Regions from separate parts of the Homo sapiens genome. Here regions 2 and 3 are each reported to be linked to region 1. Evidence: microRNA targets listed by miRTarBase, many of them from high-throughput screens and not tested one by one. Region 1 holds a microRNA gene; each other region holds the end of a gene's coding sequence.

Region 1 (3,352 bases):
TGAGGGGTGGGGGCTGGACAGTGACTCTGGGGCTGGGATGTGACTTCGTGCTGGGCCCCCCCAGGTGAAGCTGTTCATGCAGGACCTCTCTGCCATGCTGGCCGGCCTGGGTCAGGCTGAGCCTGCAGCCCCTGCCTCCTAGCCCTGACACAGGTGAGCAGCGGGAGAGGGAACCCCTGAGAGACCCTGAGATAGGAGGGCCCACATTTCCAATGGGGTGTGGACTGAGTGGCTCTTCCTGAATCCGTTTCCTCATTGGGAAGATGGGAGGGCTGTGCCTGTTCAGAGTGCTGTGGGCCTGCCATGAGGGGCACATAGCAAGCACTCCATAAATGCAGGCCCTGATGAGGAGGTGATGGGAAGGTCAAGGGGCTATGTGTGGGGCAACTGCCTCTAAAATGAGATCAGACCAGGCCCTCCCTGCCAGGGTGGTTGGGGCATGAAAAAAAACTCTTTGTCAGGTCTCAGAACAGGGTCCATGCTAGATGAGAGATCACCAAGGCCCCCTCCACTATGGACTCTGCCAGGTGAGGGGCCCAGCCTGAGAATCCAGCTGCTGGGGCTGCCCTTGACCTTCTCAGAACCTCAAACAGGGGGTGGGTGGCAAGAAGACAGAGGACAGGCCAGGTTCTGACCTCCAGGTGTGGAGGGGCCGCGTTAACCTCTTCATAGCCAGAGGGGAGCAGCTGTGTCCTTGCCCCCTGGGCTGGGCATCCTGTTCCCCTCCCCCAGCCCACTCCCAGCTGCAACCATGTCCAGTGGGAGGAAGGGGGACCAACTCCCGCCTCTGGCACCTGGTTTGTGCTCTGAGCTTCACTTTCCTCATCGCTAAATGGACAAGGCAGCAGAACTCACCCTCAGGAGACCCGCAACTCCTCTGCCACGTTAGCTGGGATTTTAGTACCTGGGTCTCTCCATTCCAGTTCCCCAAGTAGACCGCACTCCTGGCCACCAGCAGTGCTCAATAAAGATTTATTACATTAAAAATTCCATTGCCAAACCCTGAGGCACTCAGGGCTCTGACCGGTGCAGCCATGACCTCTGAACCCAGAACACATGGAAGCAGCAGCAGCTGAGTTGCCAACTCAAGTCTTGGCCTGCCTGGCTTTGCTGGCGAACTCCTGCACACCCTTCAAGGCCCTGTTCAAATGTCTCTGTCTTAGGCTGACGCAGCTGCTGCCCTTCTGTGGCCATACAGTGCTCCTTTTCACAGATGATGGCTCCTGCAGGGAGTGCCCCCAGTGCCCAGCACAGGGCCAGGCACACAGTGGTGCACGGGAACGTCTGCTGATGCCCACCCTAAGGCCAATCAAGGAGCCACGGGGCTGGGTCCTGGTCCTCACATCCTCTTCCGCATCTTGCCCTTCTTGGAGCGGGCACCCCGGCCGAAGGCGCCCTGCTGCAGCTCCTGGACGCGGCGGCGGTTGCGGGCAGAGAGCTGCTTGAGGCCACCACGCTGCAGGAAGTGCAGCTTCTGGGCCCGGCGCCGCTGCTTCAGGATCTGCTGCTTGGTCTTGAGTTCCGGGCGGACTCGGCCTGCAGGGGTGCCTGGGGCGTGGGGCCGGGATGCACCTGCTGGGACAGGGATTCAGGGAGCTCAGCTGTTGGGATCACTCCCAAGATCCCCTCCTCCCAGAAGCTTGCAGACTCCTCCCCTGCCCCTACTCCTGTTCTGTGCTTATTGCTGTGGCCCAGTGTCTGTACACAGTAGGTGGCTAATAAAGTTTTAGGCAGCCTCATGGAGTGGTCAATAACACGGGGCCAGAACCGCTGGGGTTCAAATCCCAGCTGTGACCTCTTGGACCGTGGGCAAGAAGTTAACGGCTCTGTGCCTCAGTTTCCCCATCTATGAATTATAAATCACAGCACCTCCCTCATGGGTGAAGAGTAAATGCATTTCCATGGTGTAAAGTGGTCAGAATTTCAAGGCCTGTCCCATAGTGGGAGCCTTTTGGGCATGACTGTTACTATTAAAAATTCTCCAACCAAGGAGTGTATGTCTCCACAGCACACCTACGGCACGCCAGGCTCTGAGGCCCCCCATAGTAACCGATACAGACCTCAGCCTCTGTCTCCATGGACACCATGCTCTAGGCTTGTTAGATGAAAAAAGAGTGTAGATGAACCTTCCTTTAGGTGGGAGAGGAATCAAAGAAGGCCAGAGAGGGAGAGGGACTTATCTGAGATCACACAGCAAAGCAGCAGCAGCAGCAGAGGTCAGCGACCCTGCCCCAGCCCCACAGGTGGGCATCAGGTAGTCCATTCTTCTAGTTCTCCGGGAGGCAAGCACCACCCTCCCTGGCTCCCACTAAGCCCTGTGTCCTCCTCCTCCTCTTCCCCATTCATAACAGCAGCCTCCCCAGGGCTCCTAGAGGGATGACCATTAAGGTGGTCCCAGCTGTCTCCAATGGAGCCAGGGTGCCTCGCAGGACCTATCACCTCCAATGAGGACAGCAAAGGAAGAACAGCTGCTTTTTCCCAAAGCCCACAGGTCGCCCCCGTCTCCCCAGCCCCTGCACGCCCACTGCACGGCAATGCTCGCAGCAGAAGCTGCTGTTTCACCTAGGTAAAAACAGGCTGAGAAGTGAGGTGTGGGTGGTCCCCACCCAGCCATGCTGACAAGGAGACACTCCCACAGATGGGAGAGCTGGAGAGGGAGGAGCCACAGAGAACAGGCCCAGGCAAATGCACGCAGGCTCACAGAGACACCCAGGGGAGGCAGTGACCAGCCCCAGGAGGTGGAGGGACACAAGCAGGGGCTAAGGCCATCTGAGAGAGACCCAAGACATGGTCCCAAACTCCCCTCTCCCCAGGGAAGACTCCAGGTGGGAGCCTTGGGCAGCTGGGTGACCCAGGTTCAGTCATAGCCCTCATAAGGCACCTGTTTCCTGGCCTGTAAAATGGGTATTCGCAGTCACCTTGCCTCCCAGGTCATGTGTGGCCTTCCAGGACAGAGCCTGCCTGCACCCAGCAAGCGGGAGCCCCTCCCTGATAACAGCCCTTAAGCACAGGCTCTGGCAGACAGAGCCGGCTTCAAATCCACCTTAGCTTGTTACTGGCTGAGGGACCCAGGCCAGATCAAAGAGGTCCAAGTCCTCAGATGACCAAATGTACCACTTGCCAACCCACATTTCAAGGAAGTATCTTCCTCAACATCCCCTGTGATCGCCTCCTCCCAGAACCAAAGCTGCTTCTGACTGCGTCTTTGGTGACATGAACTTCCCCACAGCATTGCTAAAAAGAACGTCACTCCTAAGGATGCCACAGGGAATCAATTCATGCTCACTGTCAGGTCGAACCACATGCAAATGCCATTTTTGCAGGTGAAAATGGCCTGCATTTGCACAAGGTT
Region 2 (3,000 bases), not on the chromosome of region 1:
GTCAGGAATGTAACTATTTATGTGCTAAAAAGTGTAAAAAACTGTCAGAACATAGCACAGCTCACACGCTAATTTTAAGCTCTACACTGACCTGTAAACTCCCTGACAAGAAACTATGCTAAAAAGGGGTTAAGTACAGATATTGCTAGGTTTCCAAAGGAAAAGTTTTAAAACAGACACCGTGGCTTTGAACAAAGTATTGCTCTTCTTTAAAATGATCAGTCATTGCTTTCAAAAAGAGGGTGTCAGAGTGGAGTGTCTGAAAGCTGGATAGCCTCAGGGTGTCACATTGCTCTTAAGACCAAGACATAGAAATTGCCATTTCAAGCCAGACAACCTGATGGTTCTAGAAGTCAGAGAAGAAATCTTGAGGGCCCAAGTGAATAATAAATGGTGCGACGCTCAGAGGCTGGCAATAGGGGCTGTCAATGAAAAAACCACCTACAGTGGAGAAAAGAGCAGAGAAGCAAAACTTCATGTTAATCTCAGGCAATTTGGTGAAGCCAAGAGCTTCATTTATATTTCTCTGCTCTTTCAGCTGTAAGTGGAATTTTCATTACAAAATGGAAGGGTGGGAAGGGCAACAGGTGGGGGGACACTTAATTCATTACAGAATTTAAACAGTTGAACTTGCATGGTTACCACTTCTAACAAAGGACTGACAGCTCGATTATTTTAAGTAAAGCAGAGAAATGTAAAAGTTTGCAGCAACTGGGCAGGTTTACAACATGGTTAGTAACTTCCAACAAACAACAAAATTAAAAAAAAAAAAAAAAGACTTGGTAGAAACCATTTGAAATGACTGCCATCATGTTGGAAAACAGCACAGCTCCCTTTTCACCATTACAGAGCGCGTGAGTTATGAAGCAGAGTCAGCTACTTCAAAAGAATTTTCTAACGAGAAATATCTAGAGATTCCAACGTGGAATCCAAATTTGATGACCAATTTCAAATAACAATACAGCCGCAGCTGCCAATTAATAGTATTCCAAAGACAATGAGGACTACTGTAAAGATTTAATTAATAAAAACTGGACACTATCAGCCATGCTTTTTCTTCTCAGTGATGGCTCTGTTTCATCCATAGGTCAGCAAAACGCATCAATGAAACATGAAAACTCCCAGCTGAAATGGGCCCTCTTGTTTATGTCTAGCCACTAATGCACAGGATGAGAATGATAAGTTACAGCTATTTCCAGCAAGTGATGAGGTTTTATTAAAGTATCACCCACCACTAATAAAGACAAAAGACCAAGGAGAAGAAACAAACTAATCATTGTGTAATATATATCTGAGAAGTGACACTAACATTTGTTGTACATTGCCCATTTCACCTTTATTTAGTGGTCCCGAAGGAATTTGGTACATACATTTGCCATATTTTGTGAAGCCCATTCTCATGGATGGGCCCTGTCAAGTTCCCAAAAGCAGAACTGAATAGGGAAAATGAAAGCTAATTCATACTAAAAACAGACATTTTTAAGACATGGTGCCTTATAAATATTGACAGGGGACCACACTGCTGCTCCTTCATGGGGGTGAGTACCTTAATGAAACCATTGACCTAGTAACATCATTGGCTTTCCAAACAAGGTGAGAATGCAAGTGGAGGACTTAGGTCTGCACCCTTTACAGAACAGCACAATGTTACCCACTGATCCATTTCCACCAGCATCATCAGGTGTCTTAAAAAGAAATGCTGACCCATGGCTGAAACCTGTCACTTTTCACAGCAGCACTCAACAAGAACTGGGACAATCGAAGAGCAAGTTTTTATGGGGACCCTGTTGCTGCTTTAGATTCTGATGTAATTGAAGAGGAAAGGAGACCCTTCAATGAATCCCAGCAAAATCACTAATCTTCTATCTGCATGAAAAAAGCCAGGGAGTGAACACAATATCTTACAGAGTGAAGAAGGCCACAAGAACAAGAGAGGGTGATTGATTGATTAATTTATTATTTTTAAAAACTTGGAAATTCATAAACTAGGATAATCACATTCTCCTTCCCCATCTCTGGGTAGTGCCATCATTTTAATAAGCAATGCTCAAATAACAGAATGGAACCTTTATCATGGGGATGGCCCTTGTACAACAGGAGTACAAAGGGCTTACAAAGTGAGTAGACTGGCTCAAACTAACAATCACCTTTGCTTTGTTTTAGCACTTTGCTTACAAGTGAATGGGCTTCTAGGGCTAAGTTATTAGTTTTCAATTCCTTGTAATTTGATACCAAAACATATCAAAAATAATAAGCTAAAACAATATTCAAACCCATATTTTATTGGCTTTATTACACACTTCAATATTTACAAAGTTAAAGTTAAATGAAAAGTCTCTATTGTATTAAAAAAAATAACTACAGCCCAAATTAAAGTGCCCTGGGGCAAATACATATCAATCAACTAAGAATCAGTGACTGCATCAGGAACCAGGCAGTACTCTGTGTTACAACAAAGCAGTTTATTTGTGATCAGTGTTTGAGACTCTATACATCCTTCACAAATTTAATTTTACATAATCTGATACGTCTCTTAAAACTTAAACTTTGAACTGCTAGACTTTTATTTCCCTAGAACAGAAGGGCTGGTATAAGTTATTTTCCAGAAATGAGGTACCGTTTTCACAGAACTGGTTTCTTTTTTTTTTTTCAAGTTTTAGAGAACTAAATTTGCATTTGTTAAAATCAAAAAGTAGGAAAGATGTTCTTTACAAATAATTTTGATCAAGTATGTGTTCAAAGAAAGCAGGATAAAAAGGCTTTTTCTCTAACATTCTGTGTTGTACTGTATTGTTGTTCAATAGGAATTAGCTTCTGTCATTTGCTAAAAGAATGAGTAGTGGGGAACAGGATATGTTGGAAATTTCATAACGGGTAACAGAACCATTCTCTTGGGTAAACCTACAGAGAAAAGAAACGGAGAGGACTCCAAATAAGTTTTAATACTCCAATAAAAATTTCAGGTAAAAAAATATCTGACAGTAATTATCATTAACCTTT
Region 3 (3,309 bases), not on the chromosome of region 1:
GTTTGTTTGTTAATGGAAAAAATTCACACTGCATCTAGTTACTATAGTATTTCTAAGCATAATCAATCAATCACAGCTGATTGATTGAATGCAATGTGATTGATTGATTGATTGATATATACCAAAATTCATATGGATGTCACACAGTGACAGCATTGTACAAGTAACGTTAATGACCTCCAACAAACACATTTTAAATTAGACTGGTCAAGCTAAAAGGAATGTTGGAGCCAAAAGAAATGTAGTGGAATTCAGATTGTCTATTAAGACTTGAAACTATACATTAGAATGATGTGGAACCCTAATACTAGCAGCAACTGTTACAGCCCTCTTAAAAGATTTGTAAGAATCTAGCAAATAAAGAAAGATAATACCATTTTTGAGAGAATATAAAACTTCTTTATATACTTCAGCATAACCTACTTGCTTTAAATCAATCAGGCATTTATTTTAAAACTGGGAGTATATTCCAGCTATTGCTTTTATAAAGGTTCTAAAATGAAGCAGATTTAATGCTGGAATGCAGAATCCTACCGTGGGTATAAAAACCCAAAAGTGAACTATAAATATATCTTGGTTCAGAAATCTAGATAGATAGATATCTAAATCACTTGAAGTTGGCAGTACTAAATAAAATATCAGCACCTTTTAGCTAGGTTGCTTGAAGGGCCAAGCAATGAGATGAGGACTGTCCTAATTCAGTGCCCAATGCTGAAAATTAATTATATATAAAACTTCTACTTATTATAAGGAGGCCATGGAGTAAGTCAGAAATAATTTTTCAGATTCAAGCATAAATTAAAGAAATAACACCTAAGCTCCCTTGCTTATAGCATACAGAAAAGACACTGGCAATAATCTATAAATACCTGGATGCATGTGCTGCTCTCAAAGTTTTGTTTTTGTTTTGAAGTTCATAGAGTAGGAGGAAAGAAGAGTACTAAATGAAAACATTTTAGATGGAATGGAAAAGAGTTTGGCTCTTATATATTTGAACAATAAGATAGATTGTTACAGCAGCTACACTGGTTGCCAAGCAGATTAAAACAAAGCTAGCTGCACATAGTTCAAATACAGTTTACCTGGCATAAATGAAGACCATGTGGCATAGGATGTAAACAGAAAGCTACATGCATATGACTAGTAATACAAATTATTAAGTAAAAATTCAGGATAAACATGGCTTGCACTTCTCACAAATCATTCACAATTATGGTAGGAGAACAGGGCACCTAAAAGACTAATCCCTATCAGGCACCAACAGCATATCTTGGCACAAGATGATCAAGTGATTTCAGCTGAGTAATTTAAATGCATCTTCCAAGTCACTTGGGTACCATGACAGCCATGGCAATAATGGAGTTTATCCTAGTAACTGTTCTAAATTGACACTTCATGTACACATTACAGACATGGTAAACTTCGATTTTCTGCTTTACAACCTTGTAGCCAGCCACGACATGTGCTCTTGGTTCCAGTGCCAAACTGGTAAAGCAATGTGAACATTCAGAACTTACATTTCCCAATTAACTAGTTGGTACTGTTAAAATAGGAAAATCAACTATTTAAACCACGTCTGGTTCATTTCTTTGATATTTTCTAGAGGGTTACAATTTTTTAAAAAGACCACATGCTCCAAACCCTCACCTACCCCCGCCAAAAAAAAAAAAAAAAAATCAAAACAAAATTAAAGTAAAAAACAAAACAGAAAGAACACCCCAACACCAAGTATTATAATAATACAAAGAACCATTATGAATCTTTCATTAAACTGAAGCTCACACAAACATACAATCACAAATTTCAGTAGTTTAGGCTGCAGGTTTAAACACTATGCAAATATATACAAAAATAGTAACTCTAGATTCAAGAATAAGGGCTTTTCCCAATGCTAAATTCATACTCTAATGCAGCCTGAGCTTTCCTCTAGTTCCTATGTCTACTTTATGCAGTTTCAAAGTTGTGTCAAGTTGATCCCTATCACCACATGAATATATGTAGCTGAATTAAAGAGCACTACAATTCATTCTTAAAACACACAAAAAATGTCTCCCCAAAGTCCATTTAAAATATTTTTAAAGTTTAAATGATTTTTTTTGGTTCGATCTCTATTTCTGCATAGCCACAGAAGTTTCTACTAATAAAGAGACTAGTGTTTTATATGATTATTTTGTGAAAAGTCTTAATCAAACATATCAACACTGGTTCATGGAGTCCCATATTCTCCTCTCTTTATCACAAGCTTTATATTTTTAAAAGACCCCTACGTGCAGGGAAAACAGTACTAAGCACCAGCCTCTTGTGGTTAGGCTCAAATCTATGAAACTTGTAAGTAGTGCAAGCCACTGACTTTCCTTTGAGCAATGTGCATACAGTACAAGGAACAGATGCAAAGCTGCATGGTAACATTCTCGTAATCAACAGTGATTACTGGGAAAGGTCAAAACTGGATGTCAAACACAATTTTATCTTCATAGAGGGCAATCACCAGCATAATGGCAAATCCAAAGAGCAATCCTAAATTCTGAAGGATGAATTGCCCCACAGGACAAAAGCCATGTTCTTCATTGTCACCATCACCATGCAACATTTCTGGAAGCTAGAAAAATAAATCTTCACATTAAACTTTGTATAATACTTCTGCTCAAAACAGTTTTTAAAAACATTTTCCTACTTAAGAAAATTAGTGACTGAAGTGTAACTACAGACAAAATAATTATTTTATTGAACACAATGCTACCCACCAGATGTATTTTAGTCAAATACTGAAGAAATTTTATGCTTTTGCTAGGAAATACTAACTCTGTTCCCTCCTCCTCATCCCCCACAACAAACACTTAAAATATGCACATTAGTCATTTTTCAAACAGTTACTATCCACTGACCTTATAAATTCTGACATTTTACTTTATGCTAAAGCATAAAGCAACTTATTACCAATAAGACACTCCAAAAACCGATCACCACAATTCCCACATTTACTAATGTATCTTAAACTCAATAAGAAAGCAAGATTCTTGGGCCGGGCACGGTGGCTCACGCCCATAAATCCCAGCACTTTGGAAGGCCGAGGTGGGCGGATCATGGGGTCAGGAGTTCAAGACCAGCCTGGCCAATATGGTGAAACCCATAAAAATACAAAAATTAGCTGGGCGTGGTGGGGCACGCTTGTAGTCCCAGCTACTCGGGAGGCTGAGGCAGGAGAATCATTTGAACCTGGGAGGCAAAGGTTGCAGTGAGCTGAGATCACACCACTGCACTCCAGCCTGGGCAACAGAGCAAAACTCCATCTCAAAAAAACTTTTTTTT

What was found. The annotated mature microRNA hsa-miR-7106-3p reads AGCUCCCUGAAUCCCUGUCCCAG and lies in region 1 at 1,576-1,598, opposite strand. An mRNA with a match to its seed (bases 2 to 7 or 8) in the 3' UTR can be bound and repressed. Matches are read on the target gene's strand: a 7mer-m8 pairs with bases 2 to 8, a 7mer-A1 pairs with bases 2 to 7 and ends in A, and an 8mer does both.
Region 2: miRTarBase lists STRBP as a target of hsa-miR-7106-3p. Seed matches in the 3' UTR shown: 7mer-m8 at 829-835.
Region 3: miRTarBase lists SLC39A10 as a target of hsa-miR-7106-3p. Seed matches in the 3' UTR shown: 7mer-m8 at 818-824.

What each region holds. Positions count from the first base shown.
Region 1 is chr12:113,157,538-113,160,889 of GRCh38, forward strand. It overlaps MIR7106 (microRNA 7106), which reads right to left and starts at 1,640; the gene lies at 1,576-1,640. It overlaps CFAP73 (cilia and flagella associated protein 73), which reads left to right. Exons shown (of 8, transcript NM_001144872.3): 7 at 65-153; 8 at 1,164-1,739. The coding sequence ends at 142. DDX54 (DEAD-box helicase 54) reads right to left here. Exons shown (of 20, transcript NM_024072.4): 20 at 1-1,572. The coding sequence ends at 1,340.
Region 2 is chr9:123,122,773-123,125,772 of GRCh38, forward strand. It overlaps STRBP (spermatid perinuclear RNA binding protein), which reads right to left. Exons shown (of 19, transcript NM_018387.5): 19 at 1-2,901. The coding sequence ends at 2,825. Among named protein-coding and RNA genes, the nearest start is that of MIR600HG, 8.8 kb to the left of the region's middle.
Region 3 is chr2:195,734,173-195,737,481 of GRCh38, reverse strand. SLC39A10 (solute carrier family 39 member 10) reads right to left here. Exons shown (of 10, transcript NM_020342.3): 10 at 1-2,599. The coding sequence ends at 2,441. Among named protein-coding and RNA genes, the nearest start is that of SLC39A10, 79 kb to the right of the region's middle.